Linked DNA regions of Homo sapiens. The protein of the gene in region 2 interacts with the protein of the main gene of each other region in a pairwise test. Each region holds a gene or a part of one and is shown on either strand. Other genes may lie near its edges.

What was found. Proteins that work in one complex are often made in the same cells at the same time.
Region 1: the proteins of KLHL23 (region 2) and AMDHD1 interact in binary tests that used the Homo sapiens proteins (3 or more experiments, as listed by UniProt).

What each region holds. Positions count from the first base shown.
Region 1 is NC_000012.12:95,960,322-95,967,356, forward strand, and holds part of AMDHD1 (probable imidazolonepropionase), read left to right. Parts: intron 1-76; coding exon 77-302; intron 303-2,033; coding exon 2,034-2,158; intron 2,159-5,364; coding exon 5,365-5,458; intron 5,459-6,026; coding exon 6,027-6,187; intron 6,188-7,035.
Region 2 is NC_000002.12:169,743,798-169,750,832, forward strand, and holds part of KLHL23 (kelch-like protein 23), read left to right. Parts: intron 1-5,624; coding exon 5,625-5,935; 3' UTR 5,936-7,035. Other genes in the region: PHOSPHO2-KLHL23 (kelch-like protein 23), read left to right, coding at 5,625-5,935.

The sequences.
Region 1 (7,035 bases), on a different chromosome or scaffold from region 2:
TCAAGTGCCAGATTACCCTGTCTTTTTGTGTTTTGTTTTTAATATTTGCCCATGGCAATCTCATTTTCTTCCCCAGAGGAAAAACTGCTACTGAAGCTGCTGATGACATCATCAATAACCACCTCCCAAAGCTGAAGGAACTTGGCAGAAATGGGGAAATACACGTGGACAATATAGACGTATTTTGTGAGAAAGGTGTCTTTGATCTCGATTCCACCAGAAGGATTCTTCAACGTGGAAAAGATATAGGGTTACAGATTAACTTCCATGGGGATGAACTCCACCCGATGAAGGCTGCTGAGGTGTGGTTGACTTTTAGTTTTTCCCTCGTCAACATTCATTCTTGCACATTCATGCTATGGGAAACTTAATTAGTTTCTTCAAAGCCCTCTGAAAAGATATTGAATGGGGAAATTTGTTTGAACAATGTACAGATTGGTCTGGTTGAGACTTGAAAACCCTGACCTCTATTAAAAACTTACTTTTTTGCTGATGATTTACTTTCATTATCATCCACTGGTGATATTAGTATTAATAGCAAAAGAATTGGCTGGGCGCGGTAGCTCACACCTGTAATCCCAGCACTTTGGGAGGCCGAGGTGGGTTGATCACGAGGTCAGGAGTTTGAGACCAGCCTGGCTAACACGGTGAAACCCCATATCTACTAAAAATATAAAAAATTAGCGTGGTGGCACGCGCCTGTAATCCCAGCTACTCGGGAGGCTGAGGCAGGAGAATTGCTTGAACTGGGAGGCACAGGTTGCAGTGAGCCGAGATCATGCCACTGCACTCCAGCCTGGGGGACAGAGCAAGACTCCATCTCAAAAAAAAAAAGGAAAGAAAAGAAAAAGAATTACCTCAGTGATCTCTTTTACTAAATTTCTAAAGTATTTTGCTTGGCACACAAAGCCACACTAGCACAGTATATTAATTTCACTTGTACCTTTTCAGATCTTTCTGTGGCAGCATCCAAATCATTTTAGTGGAGCACACCAAAAATAGCCACAAGATGATTTTCAAATCCATATATCTTTGCTCAAATTAATTCACTTATTCATCCTTTCAACAAATATTTGAATGAATACTGTGTGCCAGGCACTGTTTTAGGCATTGAGAAATCAGCAGTAAGACAAAGTCCCTACAATCATGAGTCTAGGCTTCTCTCCTCTAAAGCCTGAGACCTAAATAAACAAGCCCTTGGGGCATAAATACAGACATAGATACCCCACCTGCATGCCTCTTAACTGGCTTATATCCAGCTTGATCTCTTCGTATTTCTTCCAAGTCTTGTCCCATTTTCTGCTTCAGTAAATGACGCCATCACCTGTCTGTCGCTTAAGTCAAAATCTTGGATATCATTTTGACTGCTGCCTCTCCCTCACCTACCGCATTTCATGCAAACACCAATTCCTCCCAATTCTCCCAAATAGCTCTAGATCCCCTTATCTCACCTCTGATCCATAAGATTCATAAAGTTTTCTGTTTCAGAAAATGTCTGAAGGATTTGTGTTTAAGAATAGTTTTTGAAGTAGCCCACTAGCTAATTTTCAAATGAGTGCCCATTACAAACCCTTTACCCATTTGGGGGATTGGGCTTACAACGGTTGGTTGGCAAGAAATCTTAATAATAAAACGCTGTTTCTCTTTATGGGAAAAACAATTTAGGCCATGCTCGGTGGCTCACGCCTGTAATCCTAGCACTTTTGGAGTCCGAGGCAGGCGGATCACGAGGTCAAGAGATCCAGACTATCCTGGCCAACATGGTGAAACCCCATCTCTACTAAAAATACAAAAGTTAGCTGGGCATGGTGGCACACGCCTGTGGCCCTAGCTGCTCGGGAGGCTGAGGTGGGAGAATTGCTTGAACCCAGGAGGCGGAGGTTGCAGTGAGCTGAGATTGCACTACTGCACCCAGCCTGGCTACAGAGCAAGACTCCGTCTCAAAAATAAAACAAACAAAGCAATTTAATGGAACTTCATGGATTCGTTGTTGCTATTTGTTAAATCTTTCCCTCTCTGCCCATTCTCCTTAGCTTGGGGCTGAACTGGGAGCGCAGGCAATCAGCCACCTGGAAGAAGTGAGTGATGAAGGCATCGTTGCCATGGCAACGGCCAGGTGCTCTGCCATCCTTCTGCCCACCACAGCCTACATGCTGAGGTAAGGTCGTTTCTCACCCCAGACCAAGAGCTGCAAGTACAAGCTGTGAAGACACAGACGTCCAAAGTGCCCAGACATTATTTCATTGCCCTTACAAATCCCTTAAAAATGCAGATGAAGAAAACTCAGCTAATGAAGATGCCAACCCTGGACTGATGTTCGTAAACGAATTTCTCTGAGGAAGGAACTTAGACCCAGATTGCCTTTGAGTGGCAGGATTATTGAGGAAGATGGTGCTTTCTTTTTCTTTTTCTTTTTTTTCATGGATTTTGGAATTTTTCAATTAAAAAGAATTACTATGCATTACTTTTATAATTAGTAAATAATGAAATAGGTGCTATACTTTTAAATATATGCATAAGATGTTAAAGATATTTAGCAGTATTCAGAATCTGCATGAGCTGTTTTCTAAAGGGATGTTAGTGGGTACCATAATTGCCATAAATCTTTATAAATCCTGGGGGTGGGAGGAAAGAGGAGACATATATTTTATAAAATCTCCCCAGATATTTTGCTGTATGCTGTCTATGAATTGAATATACTTAGTTCGTCTGTTATTACTGTTGCTCTGATTCTAACCAATATGAGATCTGAGGTCTTCTGACACTTCCCATTGTACCACTTACTTATATGATATCCAAGATTGTGGTCTGGGAGGCCAGCAGTCAAGAGGAAGTTTATCTTCTCTTAGGACTAGGTGCTTTCTGTGTAGCTAGGACATGTGGTCTTTTTCATGGGGAGTGATTCTGCAGTTAAGACAGTGGTTCTCAACCCCAGGGTAATTTTGTCCCTCAGGGGACATTTGGCAATGTCTCGAGACATTTCTAGTTGTCACAACTAGGGGATGCTACTGGCATCTAGTGGGTAGAGGCCAGGGTTGCTGCTAAACAGTCCTCATTGCACAGAACAGCTCCCAAAACAAAGAATTATCCAGCCCAAGACATGAATTGTACTGAGGTTAGGTAAGACCAGGCTCCAAGTAACTTTTAGAAGGGCGAAGAAAGGAATACTTCAGTGCTTTTCTCAAATCTACTATGATTTTATATGCACATGTATGATATTATACATTTTTATTATTATTACTATTCTCTTAAAGAGTAAACACAATGTAGACTATAATCAGGAAATATCAATAACGGTTCTTGGTATGACCAACGTCTTATACATTTCAAGTGTCATCAGTCTAAGTCATCAATCAATATTTGTCTCCACCACCCAAGAAATAAGTTTTTTGTTTTTTATTTTTTTGGAAAGAAAAGGCTTTCTTCGGCTGGGCACAGTGGCTCACGCCTGTAATCCCAGTACTTTTGGGAAGCCGAGGTGGGCAGATCACTTGAGGCCAAGAGTTCAAGACCAGACTGGCCAACATGGTTGAACTCCGTCTCTATTAAAATACAAATTTAGCTGGGCATGGTGGCGCGCGCCTGTAGTCCCAACTACTCGGGAGGCTGAGGCAGGAGAATCCCTTGAACCCAGGAGGGAGAGGTTGCAGGGAGCCAAGATCATACCTCTGCACTTCAGCCTGGGCAACAGAGTGAGTGAGATTCCATCTTAAAAAAAAAAAAAAAAAAGGCCTTTCTTTAACTAGTCTTGAATCTCTTGACATGGAGCAAAAGCCTAAGACTTTGTGGTACTGGAGGGCAATTCAGCATTAAAAGTCTGAACTTTGTTCCTATACCAGCGGAGGCTGTCATCTGCCATTGCCACAGACAGGTTTAGCCTCCTATTAGGACCACAGGGGCAGTCGAAGTGAAGGCCACACTCTGCTTTCTGGCTTCTCGTTTCTATATTTTTCTGATCTCTGCATCAGGAGAGACCAGCAGGGCCCCCTGCTCTCCCCTGAACCCTCTCTTGACTCTCATTTCCAGAATAACCATTGCCTTATGCTACTTAAGGGCTTGCTTTAATCATGTATTTTATGTAAATTTGCATGTAATATTTAAATGTATTCAGGAAATATTCACCTTGGTTTTTATGGAGTGCCCTAATACTTTTACAGCCTCACTTTTTCCTCTTTTACCCCTAAGTATTTATGGAAGGGGGGGAGGGCCATTCAAATGACTTGCAGGGACATTTGAAGCTGTACCCTTTCCTCACTCTCTGTCTCTGCTTCACTCACCTCCTCTCATACGTTGTTGAAAAACATTTTAAGTGGTCCTACAAATGATCGATCATAGACTGGGAGTGACTCTAGGATGAGAATTATCTCTGCTGGACTCTTTCTCTATTGCAGCTGTTATTCCCAAATTAAATCTGTCCTCATTGCTTTAACGAGCTTTTAGGCTTTGTTTATTTTTGATGTAACACTTTTGAGATATGTCTTAAAGAATAAAGAATATTTCACCAGGGAGGTCAAGGGGATGCCTAATCCAGGAAGAAGTATAAACATTTTACACACTAAATTCTTGGGCCTTCAAGATTTTAAAGGACCTACAGAGATGTTTGAGGCAAAAAAAAAAAAAAAAAAAAAAAGAGGGCAAAGGGAGAGATGTGAATAGGAAATTGCAAAATGGAAACTAATAAAAATAGCATATTGTGGCTGGGCACAGTGGCTCATGCCTGTAATCCCAGCACTTTGGGAGGCCAAGGTGGGTGGATCACCTGAGGTCAGGAGTTTGAGACCAGCCTGGCCACCATGGTGAAACCCCATCTCTACTAAAAATATAAAAATTACCTGGGCGTGGTGGTGGGTGCCTGTAGTCCCAACTACTCGGGAGGCTGAGGCAGGAGAATCGCTTGAACCCAGAAGGTAGAAGTTGGAGTGAGCCGAGATCGTGCCACTGCACTCCAGCCTGGGCAAGAGACAGAGATTCCATCTCAAAAAAAAAAAAAAAAAAAAAAGCATAGTGTAACCTCATTTATTATTTAATTTGGGAGTCACCAAAAAGCTTATTAAATTCCAAAACCATTTGTAAGTTATATTTTCCTCCCTTTGCAAGAATGCCTTAATATGTAAAAAGATGGATGAGATAAACAATCATTAATTAAATGTTAGTCATATCTAAGTAACTGCAAAAGCAGAATGATAAAAATCAGGAGTCCTTGGATTATATATGTAACTCTACCACTAATCATTTAATCTTGAGTTTCTGCTTCTTCTTCCAGAATATGAAGGCGTTGACTGTCTCAAGTTCTCTTCTGTTCTGAACAGCTATTCTACAAAAGCTCCCATTCTAGAGACTGACATATTTTTTTCCTCCCCTTAGACTGAAACAACCTCGAGCCAGGAAGATGTTAGATGAAGGAGTAATAGTTGCTCTGGGAAGTGATTTCAACCCCAATGCATATTGCTTTTCAATGGTAATTATTTTTTTCATGTACCTTTCTGAGCAGAGTATCTACCAAGCATATAAATAATTTAAAAATATTTCACTAGCTTTTAAAACAGTATAAAAAATCTAAAAATATTTTTCTGTGAAACAAGAAAAAAAGGGGTAGACAGCAGTGTAATTGGATTTTTCTGTCCCACATAAATGCCTGCAGGCATAGAGAGAGGAGAGAAGCTTCTACATGCATTATTTTCTGATTCAGCTTTGAGTATTGTAGTTTTACAGTAACCCATTTCCTTTCTCCAGAGAATAGCATAAACTCCAAGAGGTCTTAGTAAGTATGGAAGTGAACTTCATTGTGTGCAGTAAGTGGTCTTGAAAAGTTGTCAATAAATATTAAATACGCAATCCCTATAATAAAGTAATCTTTTCCAAAGTCTAAGAATCTTTATGTATAAACTTAGATTTTTCCCATTGCAACTGAGCCAATTCCTCCTATACCTTTAACTGCCTCTATTTGTTGTGCTGTGTTGAGAAATGTTTTAAATTGCAGTTGCCATATGTCACTTTCCTCCAACACTTTTCTCTTCCTGCCTTAGCCAATGGTCATGCATCTGGCCTGTGTAAACATGAGAATGTCCATGCCTGAGGCCTTGGCCGCTGCCACCATCAATGCAGCTTATGCACTGGGAAAGTCTCACACACACGGATCGTTGGAAGTTGGCAAACAGGGAGATCTCATTATCATCAATTCATCCCGGTGAGTGTGCTTCAACTTAGCTCTTTTATATTATGCCCACTGAAGTATGCAGATGAGGCCTAAATCCCTTTTCCACTAATTATTAGTGTCAGACTCTGTCTGGACTCAGACACTATCCAGTCCCCTCTATCTTGATCCCTTTCCAAAGAGCAAATCTACTGACAGACCCTAAACAACAGGGTAGACCAAGTTTTCAAGATCTCTTCATCTGTCTGGTATTTTTCGTAGATTTCCAGATTTCTGCTCTGTTTACCTGGACTTTGGCCGGGTTGTGCCCTCTGGCATGTGTTTGTGTTTTTCTGCTCGGCTTCTGATTTTCAACTTGCTCCCAACTCTGGCTTCTCACTTTGGTTCTGATTCATTCCCTCTCTGATTTCTCATGCCGACTGGCTCCCAAAAGCTTAAACTTAGTTTTCTTGTTCCTGGTGACTTATCACTCACCCACCCATAGTCTGTTGCCACCTGGGCCTCCAGTGTAATATTAGTCTGTTATCACACTGCTAATAAAGACATACCGAGACTGGGTAATTTATAAAGGAAAGAGGTTTAATCGACTCACAGTTCTACATGGCTGGGGAGGCCTCACAATCATGGCGGAAAGCAAAGGAGGAGCAATGTCATGTCTTAAATGGCAGCAGTCAAGAGAGCGTGTGCAGGGGAACTCCCATTCATAAAAACATCAAATCTTGTGAGATTTATTCACTATCATGAGAACAGCATGGGAAAGACCCACTCCCATGATTCAATTACCTCCCACTGGGTCCCTCCCACAATGTGGGAATTATGGAAGCTACAATTCAAAATGAGATTTGGGTGGGCACATAGCAGCAAACCATATCAGGGTTTTA
Region 2 (7,035 bases):
GCTTTGCTCAGCTAGTCTGTTAAATCCTTAAGCTCTTGAAGGCTGTGCATCTGCATCCACTGAATTATAGCAAGGTTTGTTTCTTAAGGATTTTAGCAGTACCTCCTGAGGAATTAAAATGTCATCCTTGAGTTGACTTCATAGAGATACATTGCTTACACTGAGAAGAAATGACTACTATTATTTTTTAAAGATAATATAAGTATTATATTTTATCTTAACCCCTTTAATGGGGTAGTTTGTGTAATTGGAAAACATGGGACTATAGTTGCATTGAATTCAAGGTGACATTTATTGAGACCCTACATTGGAAAAGGTAGGATTCTGATAATTATGTAAGATGATTAAGTGTTAGTCTTTACTGCCGTAGGAGCTCAGAATCCAGGAGCAAATATACATACATAATGGAAATACAGGACAGTCTCTGCTAAGTTCTGTAAAAACAAGTGCTATTGAAATTGAGAATAAAAAGAGTGTAAGTCTAATTAAGGGAAATCTGACTATCTTAGAATGCTTCCAACGGTAGGTGGTTATGAGCTGGGCCTTAAAGAATGGCCCCAAATAAGGAAGGTAGTTTTTGAGGAAGGGTTTTTCTGGCAAGAAGTCAGCCCAGTGGAGGAAGGTGGAAAGGAAAGTTTCAGGTGTATTCCATTACCTGGGAGCAGACATGAATGAATGGAATGTAAGAGGGTAGAATGGGAGATCGGATGGGAGAGTTCAGTTGGAGAGCATGTCATGGAGAGCTTTGAATGGCAGTCTGGGTAATTTTTTTTTTTTTTGAGATGGAGTCTTGCTGTGTTGCCCAGGCTGGAGTGCAGTGGTGTGATCTCGGCTAACCGCAACATCCGCATCCCAGGTTCAAGGTATTCTCCTGCCTCAACGTCCCAAGTAGCTGAGATTACAGGCGCTGCTACTTTGCCCGGCTAATTTTTCATATTTTTAGTAGAGATGGGGTTTCACCGTGTTAGCCAGGCTGGTCTCAAACTCCTGACCTTGTGATTCACCTTCCTCAGCCTCCCAAAGTGCTGGGATTACAGGCTTGAGCCACCACAACCAGCTCAGTCTGGGTAATTTTTAAAATGCAGAATCATAAAGGTTTTCGAGCAAGAGAATGATGTGTGATCAGCTCTAGGTTTTTGTTTTTTGTTTTTTTTTTTTTAAAGACAGTCTCGCTCTGTTGCTTAGGCTGGAGTGCAGTGGCACAATCTTGGGTTCAGCGATTCTTGTGTCTCAGCCTCCCAGGTAGCTGGGATTACAGGCATGCACCACCACGCCTGGCTAATTTTTGTATTTTTTTTTAGTAGAGACGGGGTTTCACTATGTTGGCCAGGCTGGTCTTGAACTCCTGGCCTAAAGTCATCCACCCGCCTCAGCCTCCCAAAGCACTGGGCCACTGCACCTGGCCCAGCTCTGGTTTTAAGAAGAGAACTCTTGGCTGGGCGCGGTGGCTCACGCCTGTAATCCCTGCACTTTGGGAGGCCAAGGTGGGCGGATCATGAGGTCAGGAGATCGAGACCATCCTGGCTAACATGGTGAAACCCCATCTCTACTAAAAATACAAAAAAATTAGCTGGGCATGGTGGCGGGCACCTGTAGTCCTAGCTACTCGGGAGGCTGAGCCAGGAGAATGGTGTGAACCCGGGAGGCAGAGCTTGCAGTGAGCTGAAGATCGTGCCCCTGCACTCCAGCCTGGGTGACAGAGTGAGACTCCGTCTCAAAAAAAAAAAAAAAAAAAAAAAAAAGGAAGAGAACTCCTTTTAGGTAGATTGGGAGAAAGACAGCAAGGGGATCTACTAACACTATTGTGTTTAACCAAGGGAGAAATGCTGAAAGCCTGAAGAAGTGGTAGGAGTAGAAAAGAGGGGCCGATGTGAGGAATGTCATAGATTCAACAGCTGATTGCTTCCTTGGCTGACAGCATACAGGAGATGAAGGAGAGAAAGGAGTTGACAGTCGTCTCAGGGTCTCTGGCCGGTTGTCTGAGAGAATGAGGTATACTGAAGGAGAAGCTGACAGGAAGGGAGAAGAGGGGAGATGATGAGCTCGATTTTATAGTTTAGAGCAAAGGAATCATTGGATAACCCAAAAGAGCTGTCCAGCAGGCAAAGGGAAATGTGGGTTTGCAGCTGAGAAGGAGGGAGGTAGCTGAATGTAGAGATCTGGGGATTGTTTGCTTGGATGGTGGCTCTGGGTATGGGGATGAATAAGATGCCTTGGTAGGGTGGGACCAGCAATACAGCTATGGGCAGAATCCTAGGAAACGGGCAGAGTTGAGGGATAAGCTGAGGAACAAGAGGGTGTGAAGAGCCGAGAGGAAGCAGTATGTGATAAAGGAGGACCTGTGGAGAGTTGTGTGAAGTGGGGAGAGAACTTTCCTGGCCCTGCCATTTATTTACCTGCCTTGCCATCGGCAAGTAGACTAAGCTCTTGGGCCTTACCTTCCAGTGAAATCAGAAAGTTAGACTACATAAACTTTACAGGCTCTTCAATGAGAAAAGATCTTAGGAAAAAAAATTGAAATCAATTCAAATGGATATTGTGGTTTTCTCTGAATCCCTCTAGCTGTTTGTTCATATCACTCATCTAACACTGAATACAGACTGCTGTGTGTTGATGTTTTATACTTCTGTGTAAACTTTTGAGCCGTGACAGATGGTGTCACTCCCATTCTTGATTATTCATTTGTTCACTCATTCATGTCTAACATATCTGCTGTGTGCATCCTACATGCTGCTATATACTCAGTGCTAGGAGCACAGTGAGCAAGGCACAGTCCCAGAGCCTCAGTGGCTTAGAGGGGTTAACTAACAAGAAAAAACGCAATTACAGCTCAGGAAGAAAAAGTTCCTATCCACAACAATAGAACATGTGTTGTATTTGAGTAAAAGAGAAAAAATGATTAGGAATCACTTTACTTAAATATTTTTACTGCTATAGGAAGACAGATGGCTTTCTTAACATATGAATCAAAAATTGGGGTGTTTTGATAAACTTCAAGTAATTTAAGAAAAGCCTAGTGAGTGATGTTGAATCACTTTTACCAACTGATAAAATATTTGAACTATCATTTTCACAATAACCATTAGTTGAATGATTCATATAATTGATATAAGCAGTGTTTCACAAGTACTTGAAACAAGTAAATCCTATAAAAATTCAACATATAAATAACTGGAAAGTAAAAAATGAGTTTTTAACAAGTAGGATAATTATTTTCTTGGATGTCAGTAACGAGAAAAATATGTGGAAATGAAGCAAAAATGCAATCTTCTAAGACTTTCCTTAGCTGTCAAAACCTAGGGAGGGCCAGGCACGGTGGCTCACGCCTGTAATCTCAGTGCATTATTTGAGTCCAGGAGTTCAAGACTAGCACCTGGGCAACATGGCAAAACCCCATCTCTATTAAAAATACAAAAATTAGCCAGGCATGGTGGTGCGCACCCGTAATCTCAGCTACAGTGCACACCTGTAATCTTGGCTACTTGGGTGGCTGAAGCATAAGAATCACTTGAACCCGGGAAGCAGAGGTTGCAGTGAGCCGAGATTGCGCCACTGCACTCCAGCCTGGGAGACAGAGCGAGACTCTGTCTCTAAAAAAAAAAAAAAAAAAACTGAGGGAGAACTTTACTGGTAAGAAGTTGTCTTCCACTCCTAAAGAGGAAATCACTTTTTTTTTTTTTTTTTTTAAGAGACAGGGTCTCACCGTGTTGCCCAGACTAGCCTTGAAGTCCTGGGCTCAAGCAATCCTCCAGCCTCAGCCTCCCCAGTAGCTAGGATTACAGGTGTGCACCACCACATTCATCTGGAAATCGCATTTCTGATTGTATTATTCTTTCTAAAGAGGGGCTTGCTTATAAGCTTTCCTTCTACGTTATAATGTGAGGACACATTGGGACACAAGCGTACAAAGTACAATTCATTCATTATTCAACACATATTTATCGAATTCTCACAAGGTGCCAGACAGTTGCCATTCTCCAATTAGGAATAGGTTAGTGAGCAGGACACAGTTCCTGTGCTGCCAGGAGGGAGAGAGAGACGATAAGAAACACACCTGGCTCACACCTGTAAGCCCTGCACTTTGAGAGGCTGAGGCAGAGGAGGATCTCTTGAGGCCAGGAGTTGTAGACCAGCCTGGGCAACAAAGGGAGACCCCATCTCTACAAAAATACAAAAATTAGCCAGTTGTGATGATGTGTACCTATAGTCCCAGCTTCTTGAGAGGCTGAGATGGGAGGATTACTTGAGCCCAGGAATTTGAGGCTATATTGAGCTATGATTGTGCCATTGCACTCCAACCTGGGTGACAGAGCAAGACCCTGTCTCTAGGAAAGAAAAGAAAAGAAACATTCCAGATAATGAGAAGTGCTATGGAGAGAATTAAAATAGGATGATGTGGTAGAGACGCCTGCCTGGCCACTTCAGGCTGGGTGGTCAGGGAATGCCCTTTGAAGAGGTGAGAGTAAGACAAGACCGGAATGACAGGAAGGACGCAGCTGTGCAGAGACCTGGGGAGAGGAGAGACTTCAAGGCAGAAGGAACAGCTCAGCGATAGTGCGCTAAATCTTTCCTTGCTTTAATTTGAATGCACTGACAAATCCTCCTCTTCCTTTGGGGCTCCAGCGAAAGGTTTTTAAGTGTAATTTTATGACTGATATTCCCAGAGAGTGAACTGACAGGCTAGGAGTGACGATAAAAGCGGGTGTGTGGAAGAAAACAGGGCAGAGACCAGGATGAGGCAAATGAGATGCTTCAGGCACAAAATGTAAGGCCATGCAGTGCAAATGACTCACAGAGTTCTGCCTCCCTGCATTTTGCACCCTAAGCACTTCGCTAGCCTCACTCTTGTCACAGCCCTGGGAAGAAGGGAGAAGTAGAGTTGTGAGATATGCTGGTGCTTTGAAGATCCAGCAGGTTTGGGTGTAGAGGGGGAGATAAAATGGAAAACATTAAAACAGCCTAGGAGGAGGACCGCCCCCCCCCCCCCCCATATACATACTTCCAGCCCCAGGACCCGGATCCCACACAGCAGCCCTCCGCCTGGGGGCACCCTTCACAGCTTCTCAGGATGATAGACTGTCATGCCCCACGAGTCTGGGTACGTTTCTTTAGCTTCTTGAGTTCATAACTGGACTGGCAGTGTGAGAAGCACACAAGGCCACCCTGTGTGGCACCTGTGACAGCAGGCATGCCAGATTGCCTGCCATTGGTTAAGGAGACAGCTGCCAAGACCTGAAGGGACACCACTGCTTATCGAGGGTATCTTTCTATAAGGATTCTACTGCTACCATCTTTTACAGATAGGTGTCAAGTAAAAGTTGTCTGTGTTGGGAAATTCCCAGAAAGGTGATCTGTTGGGTGAGTTCCTCCCTGGCCTCCTACAGAGCCAGCTAAGGACAAGCTGAAGGATAATGGCAGCATGGCAGGAACAGGCGATCTGAATTAGGTGACAGGGAATGATTTTCAGCCTCAGCGTTGCAGTATTGTGTGCCTGAATCAAAATACCACCACTCCCTATTTTTTGTGTGCTAAATTTTAAAGGATTATTACATTACCACACTGTGGAATCTCTTTTGTTTGTTATCCTTTAAAAAAATGCTGTTTTCTTTTTTTCTTTTTAAAAGAATATGGATTGTGCTCAGTTCCGTTTGAAAATAAGCTCTATCTAGTCGGCGGACAAACTACAATCACAGAATGCTATGACCCTGAACAAAATGAATGGAGAGAGATAGCTCCCATGATGGAAAGGAGGATGGAGTGCGGTGCCGTCATCATGAATGGATGTATTTATGTCACTGGAGGATACTCCTACTCAAAGGGAACGTATCTTCAGAGCATTGAGAAATATGATCCAGATCTTAATAAGTGGGAAATAGTGGGTAATCTTCCCAGTGCCATGCGGTCTCATGGGTGTGTTTGTGTGTATAATGTCTAATTGAATCTGCAGAAATGACCAAGCAATCACTTTTTTGGAGTATAGTTTTATAAAAAAAGAATGCAGGGTTTGAAGTTCCTTACCTGATAATTGTGTCTGGCACATGATAGGGGATCAGTAAATTGTAATTCCTAACCCTACTGTACTCCCAAACATGGTGATTCATGGTCAAGAAAAATCTTATATATATATATATATACACACACACATATATGTGTTCATATATATGTATACATATATATGTGTATATATACGTATGTATACATATATGTGTATATATACGTATGTATGTATACATATGTGTATATATAGTATGTATGTATACATGTATGTGTATATATACGTATGTATGTATACATATATGTGTATACATATATATGTGTGTATATATATACACATATATACGTATATATGTGTATATATATACACAGTTGAATCAGTGGGATTAATACCTATAATCTCTGGTTTTCAAAGGTAATATAGAATATTTGACACTTGGTAAAAGGTGAACTACCTTTGTAGTGAATCTTTTCCTCTTGGTAGCATCAACACTGGGGATAAATCAGAACCATTCTGTGGAATGAAATGTTTCTCAAGAGCCTATAATATAGTAGATAGTGCATATTAAGATGTCTGGCTGGGCATGGTGGCTCATGCCTGTAATCCCAGCACTTTGGGAGGCTGAGGCGGGAGGATCACTTGAGCCTAGAAGTTGGAGACTAACCTGGCGAGACCCTGTCTCAAAAAAAAAAAAAAATCAATTTAGCTAGCAGGAATTTGACATTTAAAGAGGGAATCTTCTCTACCTCTACAAAATCAACCCTTAACACTTTTTTCACCTTCAGAATTATTTAGAATGTGGATTTACTTTGTCTAGTTTTTTCCTTTATAGTGTAATTTATTGTTACTCTCTATTTACTGACTACCAGAGATATACAAAATACTGTGCAAAAGATTGTTACTGTTCAAAGAGCTTACAAACTAAATTTAAAAGAATAGCAAGTCTGAAAAATAGAAGATAGTCAAATATTTGTTTATGCTAAGAACTGTTTTTAATTTTCAGCTTTGATGTAAATTGCTAGCTTAGTTGTCTTTAGTTC